Linked DNA regions of Homo sapiens: region 1 is linked to region 2. The links come from fine-mapping of genetic effects on gene expression. A gene starts in region 2. The other region holds a variant in brackets. All regions are shown on one strand. Distances are from middle to middle. Region 1 overlaps OR7G2 (olfactory receptor family 7 subfamily G member 2). Region 2 holds the start of FBXL12 (F-box and leucine rich repeat protein 12).

The links.
Region 1: its variant is fine-mapped to the expression of FBXL12 in cerebellum (GTEx, PIP 0.93).

What each region holds. Positions count from the first base shown.
Region 1 is chr19:9,096,311-9,101,686 of GRCh38, reverse strand. It overlaps OR7G2 (olfactory receptor family 7 subfamily G member 2), which reads left to right. Exons shown (of 2, transcript NM_001005193.2): 2 at 1-1,280. Among named protein-coding and RNA genes, the nearest start is that of OR7G2, 8.5 kb to the left of the region's middle. The variant G/C (reference allele first, on the strand shown) is at 2,871.
Region 2 is chr19:9,816,259-9,821,634 of GRCh38, reverse strand. It overlaps FBXL12 (F-box and leucine rich repeat protein 12), which reads left to right and starts at 2,556. Exons shown (of 3, transcript NM_017703.3): 1 at 2,556-2,907; 2 at 3,018-3,090. The coding sequence starts at 2,822. It overlaps LOC124900430 (small nucleolar RNA SNORA70), which reads right to left and starts at 1,681; the gene lies at 1,541-1,681. It also overlaps the pseudogene RPL10P15. RefSeq lists silencers at 1,995-2,144, 2,365-2,454, 2,905-3,064.

The sequences.
Region 1 (5,376 bases), 720 kb after region 2:
CTGGAGTGCAGTGGTGTGATCTCGGCTCACTGTAATCTCTGCCTCCCAGGTTCAAGCGATTCTCCCGCCTCAGCCTACTGAGTAGCTGGGACTACAGGTGCACGACACCACACCCGGCTAATTTTTGTACTTTTAGTAGAGGTGAGGTTTCATCATGCTGGCCAGGGTGGTCTCGATCTCCTGACCTTGTGATCCATTCGCCTCGGCCTCCCAAAGTTCTGGGATTACTGGGATTAGAGGCGTGAGCCACCGCTCCTGGCTAAGTGATTTTTTTTTAATGGATTAGTCTCAGAAGAAGAAAAGTTGTGGAAGGTAGATAGTTCAGGAGGATAGGTCAGGAAAATGTATTTTTGGTTTTTTGTTTAGTTTAGGTTTTTTGTTTTTTGTTTTGCTGAGACGGAGTCTTGCTCTGTCCACCAGGCTGGAGTGCAATGGCGCAATCTCGGCTAACTGCAACCTCCGCCTTCTGGGTTCAAGCGATTCTCCTACCTCAGGCTCCCAAGTAGCTGGGCAGTTTTGTTTTTTGTTTCTTTTTTTCCATAGACAGGGTCTTGCTTTGTCACCTAGGCTGGAATGCAATGACATGATCATAGCTCCCTGCAGCCCCAAACTCCAGGACTCCAGGGCTCAAACTCCAGGGACCCTCCTACCTCAGCCTCCTAGGAAGCTAGGACTCCAGGCATGCACCACCACGTCCAGTGTGGGGTGTGGTGTAGAGATGGACTCTGGCTATGTTGCCCAGGTTGGTCTCAAAACCTAGGTTCAAGTGATCCTCCTGCCATGGCCTCCCAAAGATCTGAGATTAGTGGTGAAGTCACTGTGCGCTGCCAGGAAAAGGATTTAAGCGAGGTTGTTGTTATATCTGGAGACAAGCTTCCACCTTATTGCGTATTTAGGGTCTTGTCAATTGCACCCCAGTGTAGACCTACAGTGGGTCAAGGGAGCTAAGTTTTCATACCCAATTTAGTAACTACTGGGACCAGTCACTGGTAAACTATATTCTCCCTAGACAACATTAGCATCTATTATACTCAGTTTTATCATCAAAAAATTAGCATGATTAGATTATCTTAGTGATTTGAGATTATTGTGAGATATTTGAACTTCATAAGTGAGGATACCTTAGGTTCCAGTTTAAAGAATAGGAGCCCTGGGCTGGGCACAGTGGCTCACACCTGTAATCCCAGCACTTTGGGAGGCCAAGGTGGGTGGATCACTTGAGGTCAGGAGTTCAAAACTGGCCTGGCCCACGTGGTGAAACCCCATCTCTACTAAAAATACAAAAGTTAGCCATGTGTGGTAGCTGGAGCCTGTAATCCCAGCTACTCGGGAGGCTGAGGCAGGAGAATTGCTTGAGCCCGCGAGGCGGAGGTTGCAGTGAGCCGAGATTGCACCACTGCACTCCAGCCTGGGAGACAGAGCAAGACTCAAAAAATAAATAAATAAATAAATAAATAAATAGCACCCCTAACTCTAATATGCTCAAACAGTAAAGACAGTTCTCTTTCATTACAAGGACCTCAGAATTAAGGAATGTGCACGAATAGGAGAGGGCTTCATTCAGTCCTTCACGAGGTTCCCTCCCCCCAGCACTGGTTTTCCTCTGACTGCAACAGGTAGTTGCAGTCAATGCAAGAGACATATCTAGACCTGATTCCCAGAGACAGAAAATGGAGAACCCTTCCCTGGGTCCATTGATAATAGATAACTTTCATGGAGTCAACCAGAAGACATTTCTGTCATGAGTTGGCTCATGGCCCTCAGAAGACTATATCCACATTTTAATCCTCTCGCTTGTGAATCTGAGCTTTTATTTATTTATTTATTTATTTATTTATTTATTTATTTATCTATCTATCTGAGCTGGAGTCTTGCCCTGTCGCCCAGGCTGGAGTGCAGTGGCGTGATCTCGGCTCACTGCAACCTCCGCTTCCCGGGTTCAAGAGATCCTCCTTCCTCTGCCTCCTGAGTAGCTGGGATTACAGGTGCCTGCCACCACAGCCTGCTAATTTTTATATTTTTAGTAGAGATGGGTTTTTGCCATGTTGGCCAGGCTGGTCTTGAACTTCTGGACTCAAGTGATACAATTGCCTCAGCCTCCCAAAATGCTGGGATTACAGACGTGAGCCACCGCACCTGGCCTTAAATCATATGACAAAAGGGTGAATGTGACTTATTTGGGAAAAGGGTCTTTGCAGAGAAGCAGCTTACCCTGGATTACCTGGGCAGGCTCTAAATGTAACCACATGTTTTCTTATAAGATAGGCAGAGGTGGAGGCCAGGCGCAGTGGTTCATCCTTGTAATTCCAACACGTTGGGAGGCTGAGGCAAGAGAATTGCTTGAGGCCAGGAGTTTGAACCCAGCTGGGCAACAAAATCAGACCCTGTTACAAAAAATTTTAAAAATTAGCTTGGCACAGTGGTGTGTACCTGTAGTCCCAATTACTTGAGAGGCTGAAATGGGAGGATCGCTTGAGCCCAGGAGTTGGAGACTGCAGTGAGCTATGATTGCACCATTGCACTCCAGCCTGGGCAACAGAGTGAGATTCAGTCTCAAACAAAAAAAAAAAAAAAAGAAAAAAAAAGACAGAAGTGGAGGAAACACAAAGAAAAGGAAGAAGTAATGTAACCATGGAGACAGGAATTTTATTGATGCTGTATTTGATTAGTGATTTTTTTATTAATTAGTATTTGATTGACAGTCTTGTACATTTTTGCCCTACAAATCTGTCCTTTTAATATGCATGTTGTTTATAGCCCTAGACAATTTATTAATCAAATTTTATTCTTTTTGACATTGTAAAAGTTGAAACTTCATGAACGAATTTTGTGCCCTGATTGTTGTTTCCTTTTTTATTTTTTTTTGAGAA[G/C]GGTCTTACTCTCACCCAGGCTGGGAGGCTGAGGCAGAAGAATCGTTTGAACCCGGGAGACGGAGGTTTGCAATGAGCTAAGATCATACCACTGCACTCCAGCCTGGGCAACACAGCAAGACTCCATCTAAAAAAAAAAAAGTTGTCATGCTTTTCATCATCTGGTGGCATTCTCAGAATGAAAGAGACAATTTGAATGCAAGAGAAAGTAATACCACATATTCTTATGCAGGAATGTAAAATTTTTAAAAATACACACATCCTTATGAATTAATTTTATTTTTAAGCTGAAATGTAGTATTAATCTTTCTGATATTGTTTGCTAAAGTGAGGACACCTTTAAAGGTATGTAGAGAAAGAGGTGTTGAATCCAGTACAGAAGGAAGATGAGGCCGGGCGCTGTGGCTCATGCCTGAAATCCCAGCACTTTGGGAGGCTGAGGCAGGCGGATCACCTGAGGTCAGGAGCTCAAGACCAGCCTGGCCAACATGGTGAAACCCTGTCTCTATTAAAAATACAAAAATTAGCCGGGCATGGTGGCACATACCTGTAGTCCCAGCTACTCCGGAGGCTGAGGCAGGAGAATCGCTTGAACCTGGGAAGCGGAGGTTGCAGTGAGCTGAGATCTTGCCACTGCACTCCAGCCTGGCGACAGAGCAAGACTTTGTCTCAAAATAAATAAATAAATAAATAAATAAAATAAACAAGGATGAGAGTTTCCTACTAGGCAATTTATGTGTGTGTGTGTTTTTTTTTTGTTGTTGTTTTTTTGTTTTGTTTTTTTTTAGCAGGATCTCACTCTGTTGCCCAGGCTAGAGTGCAGTGGTGTGATCATGGCTCACTGCAGCCTCAACCACCCCAGGCTCAGGTGACGCATCCTCTCACCTCAGCCTCTGGAGTAGCTGAGACTACAGGTTCACACCACCACATCTGGCTAATTTTTGTATTTTTTGTAGAGAGGGGGTTTCACTATGTTGCACAGGGTAGTCTCAAACTCCTGAGCTCGTGCAGTCCACTCGCCTCAGCTTCCAAAGTGCCAGGATTACAGGCATGAGCCACTGCACCGGCCTTTTCTCCCTGTGGATCTCACCTCTCAGAAACCCATTTCTAGAGTGTCATCATTCCACTAACATGCCAGCTACTTCGGACTTTAAGCTGTGAAATATACAAAAGAGAAATTCATAATGAATGATCCGGAAAACCTGATTAAGGTCTTCAAATACAAGAGAAGATCATCATGGTTAAGGGTGAGAATTTGGAATCAGACCAACTGGCTTTGAATCCCACCTGTGCTTTGTAAATAACCGTATAATTGTTGACACTTTATTTCACTGTTCCAAGCTCTATTTGCTCCCCTATAAAGTTAGCATTATCGGCCAGGCGCAGTGGCTCACACCTGCAATCCCAGCACTTTGGGAGGCCGAGGCGGGTGGATCACCTGAGGTCAGGAGTGCGAGACCAGCCTGGGCAACATGGTGAAATGCTGTCTGTACTAAAAATACAAAAAAGTAGCTGGGCGTGGTGGCACACACCTGTAATCCCAGCTACTCGGGAGGCTGAGGCAGGAGAATCACTTGAACCGGGGAGGTGGAGGTTGCAATGAGCCAAGATGGCGCCATTGCACTCCAGCCTGGGTGACACAGTGAAACTCCTTCTCAAAAAAAAATTTTTTTAAGTTAGCATTATCATATTTATTTACGTATTTAGGAAGACTTCTATATCAGTGTTTGTGTTGCTACAAGGAATACCTGAGTCTGGGTTATTTATTTATTTATTTATTTTGAGACAGAGTGTCGCTCTTGTCGCCCAGGCAGGAGTGCAGTGGTGCAGTCTCAGCTCACTGCAACCTCTGCCCCCTGGGTTCAAGTGATTCTCCTGCCTCAGCCTCTCCAGAAGCTGGGATTACAGGAGTGCGCCACCACGCCCAGCTAATTTTTGTATTTTTGGTAGAGACAGGGTTTCACCATGTTGGCCAGACTGCTTTTGAGCTCCTGACCTCAGGTGATCTGCCTGCCTCAGCCTCCCAAAGTGCTGGGATTATAGGCGTGAGCCACTGAGCCCAGCCTAGAGTCTGGGTAATTTATAAAGAAAAGAGGTTTATTTGTCTCACAGTTCTGCAGACTGTACAAGAAGGGTGGTGCCATCATCTACTTCTGGTGCAGACCTCAGGAAGCTTCCAATCACGGTGGAAGGGCAAGGGGAGCTGGCAAGTCAAATGGTGAGAGAGGAAGAGAGAGAGGGGAGGAGTGCCAGGGTCTTTGTGAAGTAGTAGAGCAAGAACTTCCTCATTACTATGGGGAGGGCACTAAATTCTTCATGATGAATCTGCCCCCATAATCAAACACCTCTGCCTAGGCCTCACCTCCGACACTGGGGATCACATTTCAACATAAGATCTGGAGGAGAGAAACATCCACATTATATCAACTTGAGACACTTCAACTTATTTATTTATTTATTTATTTATTTTGAGACAGTCTCGCTCCATCCCTTAGGCTGAAGTGCA
Region 2 (5,376 bases):
GTTCACAAGAAGGGAAATAATCTTAGGGGTGGAGGGAGGGGCATAGGAGTTTCCTCCCCCCATTACCTGAGCACCTCAGCAGGGCCGGGGTGCACAAGTCCCACCTGCCACCCCAGAATTCAGTCTGATATAGGAGGGCAACAAGCCAAGAAGACACACGTAATGCAGCCATAAAAAAAATGCAATCAGCTGGGCGTGGTGGCTCACGCCTGTAATCCTAGTACTTTGGGAGGCTGAGGCAGGAAGAACTTGAGCCCAGGAGTTCAAGACCAGCCTGAGCAACATGGCAAAACCCCGGCTCTAGAAAAAAATACAAAAATTAGCCGGGCGCAGTGGCTCACACCTGTAATCCCAGCATTCTGGGAAGCTGAGGCAGGTGGATCACCTGAGGTCAGAAGTTTGAGACCAGCCTGGCCAATATAGTGAAACCTGATCTCTACTAAAAACATAAAAATTAGCCGGACATGGTGGCGGGCGCCTGTAGTCCCAGCTACTCGGGAGGCTGAGGCAGGAGAATCACTTGAACCTGGGAGGCGGAGGTTGCAGTGAGCCGAGATTGTGCCACTGCACTCCAGCCTGGGTGATGCAGCAAGACTTCATCTCAAAAAACAAAACAAAAATTAGCCGGGCGTGTTGGCATGTGCCTACAGTCCCAGCTACTCGGGAGACTGAGGTGGAAGGATCGGATCACTTGAGCCCCAGAGGTTAAGGCTGCAGTGAGCTATAATTTCGCCACTGCACTCCAGACTGGGTGACAGAGAGAGACCCTGTCCCAAATTTAAAAAAAAAAAAAGATAATGAAATCATGTCCTTTGCAGTAACATGATTTTTTTTTTTTTTTGAGATGGAGTCTCGCACCCGTCGCACAGGCTGGAGTGCAGTGGCGCGATCTGGGCTCACTGCAACCTCCACAATCTCTTTCATATTCTTTTTTTTTTTTTTTGAGACGGAGTTTCGCTCTGTCACTCAGGCTGGAGTGTGGTGGCGCGATCTCAGGTCACTGCAATCTCCGCCTCCTGGCTTCAGGAGGCGTGCGTGTGTGTGTGTGTGTGTATATATATATATATATATATATACACACACACACACACACACACACACACACATTTTTTTTTTTGGACAGGAAGTAGAATTTATTGGTGAGTATTAATAGGGGGGGCAGCACATTGGAAGCCCTCATGAGTGCAGGGCCAGCCACTTGTCCAGAGGGCCACGATTGGGGATGTACTTGACCCCACAGCCATCTGGGATGAGCCGCTTCTCAGCCACCATGTCTTCAAATTCATCAGCATTGAACTTGGTGAAGCCCCACTTCTTTGAGATGTAGATCTTCTGGCGGCCAGGAAACTTGAACTTGGCCCTGCGCAAGGCCTCAATCGCATGCTCCTTGTTCTGCAGCTTGGTGCGGATGGACATGATAACTTGGCCAATGTCAACCCTGGCCACAGTGCCCTGGGGCTTTCCAAAGGCACCTCACATGCCTGTTTGGAGCCTACATTGTGGTAGTGCAAGGTTAGAAACATGAACATCCATCGGAAAGGCCTGTCTCCAAGGTCCCTTAGAGCAACCCATACAACCAACAGGCTGCGTACACTACCAAGGAAGCTGCTGTGTGCAGCCATTGCACACACACATTTTTATAGTTTCTTGGTGGACTTGCCAATTCAGAAAATATCTGTAGTATCAATGAAAGTGAAAAATTCAACAGGTCCTTTGGCCACGATATTCCAGTAATACAAATTTATCCTTGTGCATAGACATCAAGAAGCATCATTAAGTAAAAAAATAGAGTTCTCTGACTCTCTACCAAGCCATTCGCTCGGGGCCAGACCCACAGGCCTCGCCCCGCCTCAACCACGCCTTCATGGCGTAGTCTTCTCCCTGTCTCCGTCCCCCGCTCCCCACCTTCCGAGCGTCTCCATCGCTCCCCAGCCACGCCCTTGGCGCCTGGTCCTGCTGCAGCCTGGTTTCCGTCCAGACCACGACCTCTCGGCTAGGTCCTCGTCGTCAACCCCGCCCCCAAGGTCTCGCCCCGCCCCAGCCCCGCCTTCCAGCGGTTGTCCGAGCCTCTACCCGCCCTAGCCACGCCTCCAAGGCGTGGTTCTCGTCTGCAGCCCCACCTAGGCCTCGCCCCGCTCCAGCCGCGCCTTCCGGGCTTGATCCTCGCCCCACCCCAGCCACGCCTTCTGGACTTGGTCCTCGTCTCTAGCCCCGCCCCCTAGCCGCGCCCCAGCCCCGCCTTCTGGACTTGGTTCCGTTCTCTGGCTCCGCCCCTGAGCCTCGCCCAACTCCAGCGACGCCTTCCGGGCTTGGGCCTCGCCTCTAGCCCCGTCCCCGGGTCTCGCCCCTCCCCAGCCACGCCTTCCGGACTTGGTCCCCGTCTCTAGCCCCGCCTCCGATCCTCGCCCCACCCCAGCCACGCCTTCCGGACTTGGTCCTGGTCTCTAGCCCCGCCTCCGATCCTCACCCCACCCCGGCCACGCCTTCCGGACTTGGTCCTCGTCTCTAGCCCCGCCTCCGAGCTTCGCCTCACTCCAGCCCCGCCTTCTGGACTTGGTCTTAGTTCCCAGTCGCGGCCAAATCACGCCTCAGCCACCTCCCGCAAGCCTCTCACTGCCTCAGCCACGCTTTCCAGGCTGGTTTCTGGTCCCCATCCGCGGCTGGTCCGGCCCTGGGACCGAATCACTTCCCAGCGAGAGGAAGGTCAAATTTCTCGACCGGCTACGGGAAGGTCGCGGCCGCCGCCCTGTCAGCCGCCTCGGCGCCCCCAGGACCCCTCGGGTCTCTTTAACCGGAAGCGGAAGTGCGTGTCGGCGGGATCATGGCGACTTTGGTCGAACTGCCGGACTCGGTCCTGCTCGAGATCTTCTCTTACCTCCCGGTACGGGACCGGATCCGCATCTCCAGGTGCGGCCCCGCCTCCGGGGGGAAGGGCAGGGCGGAGGGCGCAGCTGGCACCTGGAGATGCGATGTGGCCCGGGGCTGGGGTCGTTCTAACCGCGCGTCCCCTCCCCCAGGGTCTGTCACCGCTGGAAGAGGCTGGTGGACGACCGGTGGCTGTGGCGACATGTCGACCTGACGCTCTACACGGTACGCGCAGCTGGCCGGGCGGGCCTGGGCCGCGGTCGCGGTGCCCGGACCCCGAAGACCACCTCTCCCACCCTGGGACTGTGTGTCGGGGCCCGGGCTGGGGATTTAGAGCCAGGCGATCCGGGGCCTATCTCGGCATCATCGCTTACCAGCTCCTCTTCGACCTCAGGGCCTCAATTTCCTCATCCCTGCAATGGGGATAAAGGACAGTACCTGCCTCACGGGGCTATTATGGGACTTCACTGAGATCACGCAGGGAAAGGGCTTAGAACAGTCTGGCACATATTTATCATTCGATAAATGCTAATTTATGACTATGTTATCAAGTTTTTGTTTTGTTTTTGAGACAGAGTCTCGCTCTGCTGCTCAGGCTGGAGTGCAGTGGTGCGATTGCAGCCTCGACCTCCCAAGCTCAAGCGATCCTCTCGCATCAGCCTCCTGAGTAGCTGGAACCACGGGCGCTCGCCACTACACCTGCTAATTTTTTATTTTTTGTAGAGACGGAGTCTCACTATGCTGCCCAGGCTGGTCTCGAACTCCTGGGCTCAAGTGATTCTCCCGACTTAGCCTCCCAAAGTGTTCAGATTACAGGCATGAGCCACAGCAACTGGCTCAAAACATTTATAGATATATTTGTTGCCCTTTTTGAAACTGTCTTCATAGATAATTGCTATTATAAAGTGAATTTGCACCCTTCCTTTTACGTTACTTCATATGTGTGTGTCCAAAAACAATTATAGTGTTAGTAATGTATTTCTGAACTTCGGGTAATGCTGTTCTACTATTTAGATAGTGTTCTACTTTTAAACAATTTTACTGTATATATCCATCTGTAACTCCCTTTAATACAGTTGCTTTTGAAGTTCTTTTTTTAAGGACAGAGTCTTGCTATGTTGCCCAGGATGGTCTCGAACTCCTGGACTGAAGCTGTCCCCCAACCTCAGTCTCCCAAAGTGCTGGGATTACAGGTGTGAGCCACAGTGTCTGGCCTGATAATATGAAACTTTTTCTCAGTTGTTGAAACTTAGTTGTTGGTTTTGCGAGGAAAAGTTGATTCGTCCATTGGTTTTGTGTGCATTTAAAATTTTACCAACTTTAACTGCTACCCTTGTGAGTTACCATTCGGTGGCCACTATTTCTAGTCAATTTCTGCTGACCCACACGGGTCTAAATTTGGCAAGGAAGATTTGATTCCTCTGTCAAAAGTAGCCCATAACATTTATGCTCTGCAGTTTATCTTTTTCTAATTTATTTTTTTGAGATGGATCTCACTCTGTCACCCAGGCAGTGGCAAAATCATAACATACTGCAACCTCCATCTCCTGGGCTCAAGCCATCTTCCTGCCTCAGCCGCCTGAGAAGATTCATTAAAACATGTTTCTTTCTCTCTTGGTTCATGATATGGTTTGGCTGTGTCCCCACCCAAATCTCAACTTGAATTCTATCTCCCAGAATTCCCACGTGTTGTGGGAGGGACCCGGGGAAAGTAATTGAATCATGGGGCCAGTCTTTCCCATGCTATTCTTGTGATAGTGAATAAGTCTCACAAGATCTGATGGGTTTATCAGGGGTTTCCTTTTTTGCTTCTTTCTCATTTTCTTTTGCCATCAACATGTTAAGAAGCGCCTTTCACCTCCCGCCATGATTTTGAGGCCTCCCCAGCCATGTGGAACTTAAGTTCAATTAAACCTCTTTTTCTTCCCAGTCTCAGGTATGTCTTTAGCAGCAGTGTGAAAACAGACTAATACTGTAAATTGGTAGCGGTAAGTGGGGCGTTGCTGAAAAGATACCCAAAAATGTAGAAGCATCTTTGGAACTGGGTAACAGTCAGAGGTTGGAACAGTATGGGGGGCTCAAAAGAAGACAGGAAAATGTGGGAAAGTTTGGAACTTCCTAGAGACTTGTTGAGTGACTTTGCCCAAAATGCTGATAGTGGTATGATCAATAAGGTCCAGGCTGAGGTGGTCTCAGATGGAGATGAGAAACTTGTTGGGAACTGGAGTAAAGGTGACTCTTGTTATGTTTTAGCAGAGAGACTGATGGCATTTTGCCCCTGCCCTAGAGATTTGTGGAACTTTGAACTTGAGAAAGATGTTTTAGGGTATCTAGTGGAAGAAATTTCTAAGTGGCAAAGCATTCAAGAGGTGACTTGGGTACTGTTAAAGGTATTCAGTTTTATAGGGGAAGCAGAGCAGAAAAGTTTGGAAAATTTGTAGCCTGACTATGTGATAGAAAAGAAAAACCCATTTTCTAGGGAGAAATTCAAGCCAGATGCAGAAATTTGCA